2 separate regions of the Homo sapiens genome follow, and region 1 is linked to region 2. The links come from fine-mapping of genetic effects on gene expression. A gene starts in region 2. The other region holds a variant in brackets. All regions are shown on one strand. Distances are between the middles of the regions.

Region 1 (5,381 bases), 140 kb before region 2:
TTAGCTCCCAGCTGTCTTCCCATACTGTGTGATCTCTGAGGACAGGAACCCTGACTTAGGGGCTAGCACAATATTTGACACCCAGCATTGCCAGGAACTGGTTCTTAAACTGAACTCATCCTCATGCAAATGGCCAGGCTTTCACCTGCCCCAGATACCCTCAGCTTACAGGAAAATGCTCCACAGTTGAGCTTGGAATCCACTCTGCTACTACAATCCTGTGTATCCTTGACAAGTTCACTCTCTCATGTAGAAAATAAATTAATCATCCACATCTTTCTTGGAAGAACAATCAATTTATGAAATGTCACTATCAAGTAAGGAATGTCTTGGTCTTACATTTCCTAGAGAGTAAATTATTAACAGTTTTCCCTGTTGCAATTTCTGGCATTATTTAATCTGAGCAGGAATATCCAATTCCCTCATGTACCACTTGCTGCTCTTGTGGGGATACCTTCTTATGGGAATAACATCCCTCTTTCTTCCCTCCTCAATTGGTATCGAAAGCCTAGAAAAGGCTACCTTGTCACATGGCAGCACACTTCTGCCAGAGTCCACTGTGACCACTCGTCTTCACTGAGGCCCTGCAGGAAAGGCCTGTGGGCTGGGAGGCCTCTGGAGGGCTCCGGCCCTTGGACAGCTTCCTTTGTAGTATTCCTTCTACCCCACCCAGGGAGTCTAGTCCCTGCTGGACAACTTGATGATTCAAAAGTTACATAAATAAGGTAGTTTCATAGAACCGACCTTGGAGACAAGGATTGGAGCAAAGTATCACATGGTATCAGGAACACACTGGTGCCTAAATTTTTTTAGCTATAGATAATGATGCCTAGTTCACTAGCCCAGTGTGTGCACACAAGTAAGTACTTAGCTTAAATGTTAGTTATTTGGTTGTGGGGTTTGTTTTGAGACAGGGTCTCCCTCTGTCACCTAGGCTGGAGTGCAGTGGCATGATTACAGCTCACTGCAGCCTCGACTTCCCCAGGCTCAGGTGATCCTCCCACCTCAGCCTACCAAGTATCTAGGACTACAGGCATGTGCCACCACACCTGGCTAATTTTTTTGTATTTTTTGTAGAGACGGAGTTTCACCATGTTGTCCAGGCTGGTCTTAAACTCCTGGGCTCAAGCAATCTGCCCAACTCTGTCTCCCAAAGTGCTGGGATTACAGGTGTGGGCCACCATGCCAGCCAATGTTAGCTATTAATATGATTGAAATCCATGAATATTTCACTTGGTCTTAGCCGAAAGTCCAGTAATGAAATCAGTGAATATTTGATTTCTGTAAGTTAGCATTGCTGACATCTTTCAGGCATGGAAAGGGAGGTAACTTTACGGGTGCTCTAATAGTGATAAATGAATACATTTTAAAACAGATATTAAGGCTCAGTGCGGTGGCTCACACCTGTAATCCCAGCACTTTGAGAGGCCTAGGCAGGTGGATCATCTGAGGTCAGGAGTTCGAGACCAGCCTGGCCAACATGGTGAAACCCCGTCTCTACTAAAAATACAAAAATTAGCCAGGCATGGTGGCGGGCACCTGTAATCCTAGCTACTTGGGAGGCTGAGGCAGGAGAATCGCTTGAACCTGGGAGGCAGAGGTTGCAGTGAGCCGAGATTATGCCACTCTACTCCAGCCTGGATGACAGAGCAAGACTCTGTCTCAAAAAAACAAAAAACAAAAAAAATATATTAAGTACAGTAGAATACCTGTATAATAAATATTACTATGGAAAACGTAATTAACAGAAGTATTAAAGGTGAATACCATTAATAGTCAAGATCTTACTATACTGAAATAACATTTACTGTGTGACAGCCACTTTATGGATAGGATTGTTTTTTTTCCACACCACAACATTAGAGATGATATCCATGTTACAGATGAGAAAACTGAGGCTCAGAAAAGTTAAGTAATTTGACAAGGTTATATATTCGATTTATTCTAATTCAAATCCAGGCCCACCTGGTTGCAAAGTACATTCTTATTTGTCTATACTGATTAAGTTCAATGAATAGGGTCAGGTCTATGTATAATTAACACACATTCTTTTTTTTTTTTTTTTTTTTTTTTGAGATGGAGTCTCGCTCTGTTGCCCAGGCTGGAGTGCAGTGGCGCTATCTTGGATCACTGCAAGCTCCGCCTCACAGGTTCATGCCATTCTTCTGCCTCAGCCTCCTGAGTAGTTAGGACTACAGGCGCCCGCCACCACGCCTGGCCAATTTTTTGTATTTTTAGTAGAGACAGGGTTTCACCATGTTAGCCAGGATGGTTTCCATCTCCTGACCTCGTGATCCGCCTGCCTCCGCCTCCCAAAGTGCTGGAATTACAGGCATGAGCCATAGCGCCCGGCCAACACACATTCTTAACATATTAGGAAGACACCAATGGCACTACTAACAGTCTACTAATTGGTTAGACATAGATGTTGCCCTTTTGCTTCAGGCATTCCATAGATCATGCTTGCTCAG[TG/T]GAACAGTGGACTTTACAACTATCTCATAAAGTTTTGACAATATAATCCTCACCTTTTAGTGCAGAGAAATGATACCAGCATTCCGAACTTTCCTGAAGAGGCATGATAAGACCATTGTTACCAAAATGCTGAGGTACGTTCTGAGGGAGAGCACAGCAGGGGTCCCCCCAGAGAGGGCATTCCTGGGCCTTCAGAGACCAGAGCTCCCTTCTCTATGCCTCATACAGCCTGCCAGAGCTGCTGCTGTACCCATCCCGAAGATTTGAAGAATACCTTAATCTTCTCTACGCTGTCAGGCTTCATACCCCTGCAGAGCATGTTGACCGTGGGGACTTGACCACTGCAATTGACCAAATCAAAAAATATAAAGGTTATATAGATCAGGTTGGTTGCTGATAAGAATCTGTGTCCTTTAAACATGTTACAATGCCTTTGTGGTACTCCCACTCAAAGATCCTGAGACACCTTATCTTCTTGTGGGGTTCTTCGCTTTAAAGTCTTTCATCCTTTTAATGCTAAATCAATAGTGTGTTCCGTGATTTCCAACACTAAGGGCATCTATTCTAAGCCAAGCAACATGAGACAATGTTTTCAGATATTTGTACAAATATAATGAAATTTTTATGAAAGTTTGAAGAATGAAGTATTTGGACTGATTTTTTACACAACTAAAAGGCAAAAAAAAAAAGTAAAATCCTTTGTTTCTGAAAGTACTTTCAATGCATTAATTAGCTTTCCTGCCTCAGTGAGTACAATGGTCATAATTATTCTCTGAAGAAGTAATTAAGCACCTTGGAGTACAGTACTATCATTCTGAAAATATTATTATTATATTGTGCATACTGTAAACAGGCATCTGGGCTGAATGTAAACTGCTAACACATTTTTCCATGCAGATACTTTTTTGCATTCAGTTTTGTCACTTGCCTTTGTTTTAAAACATTGGGTACAGAAAATTGAAATTTTTTTTTTCTTTTTTGAGACAGGGTCTGGCTCTGTCACCAAGGCTTGAGTGTAGTGGTGTGATCTCGGCTCACTGCAACCTCTGCCTCCCTGATTCAAGCAATCCTCCCACCTCAGCCTCTTGAGTAGCTGGGACCACAGGCAGGCGCCACCATGCTTGGCTCTTTTTTTGGCTTTTTTAAAATGTGTGTAGAGATGAGGTTTCACCACTTTGCCCAGGCTGGTCTTGAACTCCTGAGCTCAAGCCATCAGCCCACCTCAGCCTCCCAAATTGCTGGGATTACAGACGAAAGTCACTACACCCGGCCCAGAAATTTGAAACTTTCTATTATAACATATGAAAATACCAAGCCCTGTATCAAGCGCCATAAAATATTTTAATCTATTTCTTTTATGAATAAAAATGTCACAATTTTAGTTTGCCTAAAAGTACTTTTTTTCCCCTAGATGAAGCAAAACATCACTATGAAGGATCATCTGTCAGATATACAGAGAATCATCTGGGGATGCCCTGTATGTATTCTTAGGAACTTGCTGTATCTCATGCTCATGAATACAACCTCCAGTCTTTTGCAAAAGGAGACCTACAGATCCCAAGGCAGCTAGTATTTGTGGAATGCCTGCTACGTGCCAGGCACTGCCATGCTCTCCCATTTCACATCCTTGTTACCTGCAAGGTTGCTCTATAAGAAGGGGCACAAGTGAGCTTGCCCCTATCCCATAACTTTTTGGCAGTCTTTGCTCCTTTATTGGTATTACTGTGATCACAATGCCCTGTGAGGAAAGGGGCCATGTGTTCTACTTGTTTTCTTTTCTTTAATTTTTTTTTTTTTTTGAGACCGAGTCTCACACTGTCGCCCAGGCTGGAGTGCAGTGGCACAATCTCAGCTCACTGCAAGCTCCACCTCCCGGGTTCACACCATTCTCCTTCCCCAGCCTCCCGAGTAGCTGGGACTACAGGTGTCCACCACCACGCCCAGCTAATTTTTTGTATTTTTAGTAGAGATGGGGTTTCACCGTGTTAGCCAGGATAGTCTCGATCTCCTGACCTTGTGATCTGCCCGCCTCGGCCTCCCAGTGCTGGGATTACAGGCGTGAGCCACCACGCCCAGCCATGTTCTACTTGTTTTCTATCTCCCTGCATATGATACCTGGTGCAGGATTCTGCACCCTGATGGTATCTGAACAAGCTTTAGAAGGCCTGTGTTAGCGACGTGTTAACCTATAGAATTTCATCTGGCCCCACCCTCCCTTATCTCTTACAGTTTTCCTGACTTCCTTATAATCATACCACACAGATCCACTCACGATTCTCTAATGTTAACCTCTTTTCACACATTTGTGCTTTGTGCATACTCTTTCTTCTCTGAAATTGCTTTTCTTTCCTATTTCACTGGATAAACCCCTATTCATTCTATAAAAATCTAGTTCAATCATCATATCCTTTGCAAAGTTTCCCCCAGCATTTCCAGCTGTCAGCGGCTTCTTTGTAGGGATTTTGCATCCTGAACATTCCTGTTACATTTTACTGCAATCCTTTATTCATGAAACTGGGAGCTCCATCATGTGTGAGCTATGATTTACTTGCCTTCTCATGTCTGGCACATAAGAGGAGCTCAGGATGTGAGTTACGTTGAATTAAAGTATCAATTGATTAGAAATGTTATTTTTATTTAGTCAAATTGGGGAAGCAAGATGAAGTTGTTTTGTCATAATTTTGGTCTGGACATTTTGTAGGGAAAGATAATTGAGGTTGATTGGTTTGCAAAGATCCAAATTCTTGAAACTCAGAGTCTACAAAACTCTCTCTGGATCACTGTTCACACCAAGAGCTCATCCCCATGACTAGATCAATATAAAGGCTTGACTTCTTATTCTGTACCAATTCATTCACTTCTTTTTCTTTTCTTTTTTTTTTTTTTTTTGAGATGGAGTCTCACTCTGT
Region 2 (5,330 bases):
AGATCCTCTAAGATAGAGGAAAAAATAGAAAAGTTTTTTCTATTCATTACAGTGCAGACAACTGCATTTTTAAAATAATGACTTCGATTTTCCATGAGTGTTTAAATATCATAGTGTTATTTTTCTCCTTCCAGGAACATGTAATAAGTTTTTAAGTAAAGTATTAGCATATAATATAACGCTTTATTCTGGAATTGTCTATAGCTACACTGTCTAATACAGCAGCCACTAGCCATAGAAGGCTATTGAGCACCTGAAATGTTGGGTAAATGTAAAATACAAAATAGACTTACAAGATTTAGTATGAAATAAAGAATGTACAATGTCTTATTAATAATTTCAAAATATCCATTACAGGTTGAAATGATAGTAGTTTGGATATACTGGGTGAAATAAAACATATTATTAAAATAAATCTCACCTTTTTAAAAAAAATGTGGCTACTAGAAATTTTAAATTGGACGTGTTGTTCACAATTTTATTTCCTTCGGACAGTGCTGGTCCGAATTAAATACATGCAATTAAATTACAATGCATGCAATTAAATACATGGATAAGGATTGTTTTAATATTTCAAATGTACATTACTTGCAGTTCTGTTTGACAAAGGACAGGTCATGGGCTACTTTGGACGATTTAGTATTGGCACTTTGTGGCTGGCACATTTATTTAAAATATATTAAATACTCTTTAATTTGATAAATTGTATTATTTTCTTTTTAGGTTAAACTTCCACATTGCTTACATTGTACATGATGATATTCCTGAGGGAATAAGAATAGATAACAAAAGTCTATTTGGAAATTGAAGGACTAGGATTGGATATGAAAAATATTAGTTAAGATTTTTTAATATTTCTTTTATCAAAACAGCTTTCTTTTTTCTTTTCTTTTCTTTTCTTTCCTTTTTTTTTTTTTTTTTTTTTTTTGAGATGCAGCCTCACTCTGTTGCCCAGGCTGGAGTGCAGTGGCACGCTCTTGGGTCACTGCAACCTTCGCCTCCTGGGTTCTAGTGATTCTTCTGCCTCAGCCTCCAGAGTAGCTGGGATTACAAGCATGTGCCACCACGCCTGGCTAATTTTTGTATTTTTAGTAGAGACGGGGTTTTGCCATGTTGGGCAGGCTGGTCTCGAACTCCTGACCTCAGGTGATCCGTCCACCTTGGCCTCCCAAAGTGTTAGGATTACAGGCATGAGCCACTGCGCCCAGCCGACAAAACAATTTTCTTAAATTGTAATTCCTTATAGATTAACATAAAGCTTGTGTTATACTTAGTTTAGCACATGTGTAAACAAAGTATCTTTTGGGTGAGTTTATTTTTATATTAACAAGGATGTTTACTTCTTTAGGTAAAGTAACCTATTTCTTTTTCTTTGGTTGGCAATTAGGGCAATACTAATTACCTAATCATAACAGAAGCGGTGCTCTCCAGACTCATTATTCCTATCATTGGATATTATCTGACTGATGAATTGTGATCCCTGTCACAGGCCAAAATAGCGAGGTCCTGCTTCGATAATTGCTAAATATATTTTTCTTGAATTATATATTTTTTGCCTTATGTCGACTGTGAAAGATATAAACTATAACTTCTCACCTTTCTTTTGGTGAGAAAAAAATAGGCCTCAATCATTTTGGTAACAATATAAAACAAGTAAAAGAAAAAAATAGGTCTGAAAAGATCTTGGAGTCACCTTAAACTTTATCTGCCATGAGACACTTAGAAGAATCAGACCTTTGTTGAAGATTACAGAACAGAGACTCCTTCAGTCACACCCAGGAGACAGGTATTCACCGTAAAGACTAGAATGAAGCGTGGGAAGTGGATGGATCCAGTGCAGCCCCAGGGAACTGAACACTCACATGCCCCTGGGAAGCAGGTCTTTGTTGCTCTCCTTCCATCACTTGGTCTCAGCTTGTCTTTGACTGGCTTCTACCACTTGTGCCTCCACCCAACCTGCTGCTACATTCTCCTGGTTTCTGCTTACTCAAATGTTTTGCATCCGAAGCCCATTTTGGCCCCTTCTGCCTTACCCTCTCTTAGCTCCAACCTTTCTCTTACATCAGACAGCTCCGTCTCTGCATTCTCCACTTTCCATTTCCAAGGGAGTGTCTGATTGGCTTACTAACTATCAGAGTCCGTGTTTGATGAGAACTGTTTGCTCCAGGTCACCTCACAGGATGATGACTACATCACGGATTGTGCGCTCTTGGGTCACGCGATCACTCTTAATTTAAATTAGCTGGGCTGGGGGTGGGGAGGGGGTAAGGAACGTTTTTTGTAGTTATTTGTGCAACCCCTGCTCTAGAAATAGTTTGGGTAACTGTTTCCTTTCCAAAAGGACTCTCTGGGTACGGTAAGCATCTCTCTCTCACACACGCATATATTAAAATAACAGTGACTAAAACAAAGGGAGCATGAATAAATTGAATTATGAAGTTAAATGTATGAAATAATGAATGAACAAGGGAAGAAACCGATACTGACCCAGGGTCAACAACTATCTATGTCCAAGTAAAATTTCTTTGCAGTCTGACAAATTGGCTTTCAAGATTGCATTTTGTTTTGCGAATTAAGCCATTTTTAAGTCATGAGTCGTAGTTTTCTGGAGGCCCCCGGCATCCGGAACCCATGAATGCCACGTTCTTTCTAGCAGCCTTCAGCAATTTGAGGGCGCTTTGTTTCTTACGTTGGGAGAGAAATCCATCAGGAAATCGACGCCCAGGATCAGATGCAGATCCTGGGATCCTTGGCTCTGAGTAGCACGGTGGAAAAGTGAGGTAATCCAGGCTCTGGGCCCGTTTTCCTAGGAGCCCAGGGCGCTTCACCTGTCTGCAGTCAGCCCCTTTCTTGGACGTCTCCTCCCCTGAGTTTCCTCCTCATAGGCTTGTCCCTGGGAGTGTGGGCGGCCCCTTTCTTGAGCGCAGAAACACTTACTTTTCCCCCTACCCTGCTCCTCCTCCTCCACAGCCGTCTTTCTCTTTGCCTCAGCCACTTCCTTCCTTGGCCTCACCCTCCCCAGTGCACTGAAGAAGGTAACCGGGTCCAGACCCACGCGGCGCCAGTTCTCCGGCGGGAAGGAAAACCGCGCAGAGAGGTGCGTGAGCGCCCGGGCAGATGTGGCTTAGGTAGCAGGGATGGACTGGGTGTCCGTGGTGCGCCGCCGGGCACCGCGGGCTGCGGTGAGAGTCGGGTCAGGAGGGGGCCGGGAGGGGGCTCAGGGCGCGCGGAAGCTGCGACCGGCTGGGCCGAGACCTCGCGGGTTGGGGTCCCGTGGGGCGCGCGCCGCCCACGCCCCCACCTCTCGGGTCGACTTCCGCACTCGGCTCACGTGACGTTTCGCCGGCCGGGGGCGGACTGGGAAGCCGGCAGAAATGGAACGATTTTTACCGCGGTGCGACGTGTCGGCTTTGCACTTGGCGGTGGTTCAGGAGCCAGTTCTGCAGAGCTGGGTGGGGAAGGGCTGGGGGCGAGAGGAGAGGCTGCCCCGAGGAACGTGGTGGCCTCAGGGCAGTGGACTCTGCAGCGCCGGAGGTGGGTGCGGCTCTGTGCGCTCCAGATCAGGGGGTGCAGAGTCGTGAGGGGACACCAGGGGCTCGTGGAGCCCGGGGCAGGGTCCGTTTTCGTCGCCCGGGTTGGGTGCTCGCTCTCGCGGCGCTTCGGGGCGCCCGGGCCACGGGGGAGGCAGACCCGCGGCGCCGGGCCGGGAGCTGCGGAGACAAAGACTTCCGGGACGCGGCCCTTCCCGGGCGCCAGCGGTGCCGCCCCGCCACGGGGGGCCCAGCCCCGCGCTCCCCAGCCCTGCACTGGTGCCGGCGGTGACCGTGTGATGATGGGCTGCAGGGCACGGGGTTAGGGGACCTCTACCAGGCAGAACCCCAAGCTGGTAGCAGAATGGCCAAATATGGAGTGAGCGCGCCCCAGACCGGAGGGAGTAAGGAGCCCAGTCACCCTTTGACCCGCACCAGCTGCTTGTCCGCGATTGCGAAGAAGGGCTGGGAAAACGTGCCCAGCCCGAGTGTGTAAAGTTGGTTCCTGATTCCGGACATACCTATTCCAGTAGGCTTTATTTCCTTGGATATTAGAAAATCTCCATGCATTGCCTCCAAACTTTTGAAAAATAACAATGCCCTGAGGGTCCTTAAATACATTCTAAAGTGTGTATTGGTGGTGAGTTTCGGGTTCTGCCCAGTCCTCCGACTTTCCGCTTCCTTTGTGTTTCCCACGCACAAAGCCGAAATCGATTCTGCGACAATTAGAGTGCCTGGCCGTCATCTACCTCGCCTTCCCTGGAGCCTTTTCCTGTCTTCTGGTCCAGCCGCTCACCATTAAGCTCTTCCCTTTAGACTTGCTCTGCTTCTCACCTCTCCTCATTGTTCTTTTCTTTTTTTTTTTCTTAGACATAGTTTCACGGTACTCGTGAGAATGTGTTACATTCGTATAACCAAATCAGGGTAATTGGTATATCCATCACCCTAAATATTTATCTCTTCTTTATGCTAGGAACATTCAACTTAACTTGCTTTTAGCCATTTGGAAGTGTACAATCCATTAATGTGAACTATAGTCACCCCACTGATCAATGCAACACCAGGTCTTATTTCTTCTGTGTTTATACCCATCAACCTCTCTTCACCCTCCGCCCCCTTCATTGTTCTTCATCTTGCTCTCTGCAGTCCTGGGATTCTGTCCTTATTATAAAAGGCCATGGGTCTTTAAAGGATTGTGTCACAATAGGTATTTTTCCCCCTTTGTCCCTCTCCTTCCTAAATAATAAATAAATAAAACGTCAAATTATGTATGCTAGCAATTGTTTTTAAACCTGTTATTTTCCTATTTATGGTGGTCTGGGCAGGGAGCCTTTCTTGCTTTGTAAGTGTTCTGCCTTGGTAAGAGCTCAGCATGTCACGTTTCATACAAATACCACTCACTATTATATTTAGTGTATTTGCATAATGGCAAAAGAGGAAGAGGAAGCGGGGAAACAGCCACCACGATGTGGTAGAGACAGCATTTAATTGTGGGGCATTAACCCCTGTTTCGTTATCCTTAAAATAGAGGTAAATAAATGCCTTGCAAGGTTCTTAGAACTACATGAATTAACGTAGATAAGGAGCCTGATGTGTAATTAATTATAAAGAAACGCTGGTTGCCTTTCATGCTTAAAATTGGATGAACGTACATCTGCTTACTATAATGCAGGTATGCGTACTATATATAATAGATGAATTTCCCCTTTGATGCTCATTATTCAATGAGAGCTAAGTCTGAAGTATGTTGCTGGAGGTGGGAGGAAGGAGCGAAGAAGGGTGTTAAAGAGATAACATCTT

Evidence for each region. PIP is the estimated chance that this variant, and not a neighbour inherited with it, causes the effect.
Region 1: its variant is the best candidate, but not a certain one, in a credible set for the expression of ABRACL in monocytes (TOPMed, PIP 0.75).

Annotation. Positions count from the first base shown.
Region 1 is chr6:138,882,974-138,888,354 of GRCh38, forward strand. ECT2L (epithelial cell transforming 2 like) reads left to right here. Exons shown (of 22, transcript NM_001077706.3): 17 at 2,533-2,606; 18 at 2,701-2,857; 19 at 3,884-3,949. Among named protein-coding and RNA genes, the nearest start is that of ECT2L, 90 kb to the left of the region's middle. The variant TG/T (reference allele first, on the strand shown) is at 2,472.
Region 2 is chr6:139,025,779-139,031,108 of GRCh38, forward strand. It overlaps ABRACL (ABRA C-terminal like), which reads left to right and starts at 2,967. Exons shown (of 3, transcript NM_021243.3): 1 at 2,967-3,097. RefSeq lists silencers at 3,131-3,290, 3,551-3,920, 3,970-4,160 and enhancers at 3,814-4,108, 3,931-4,750.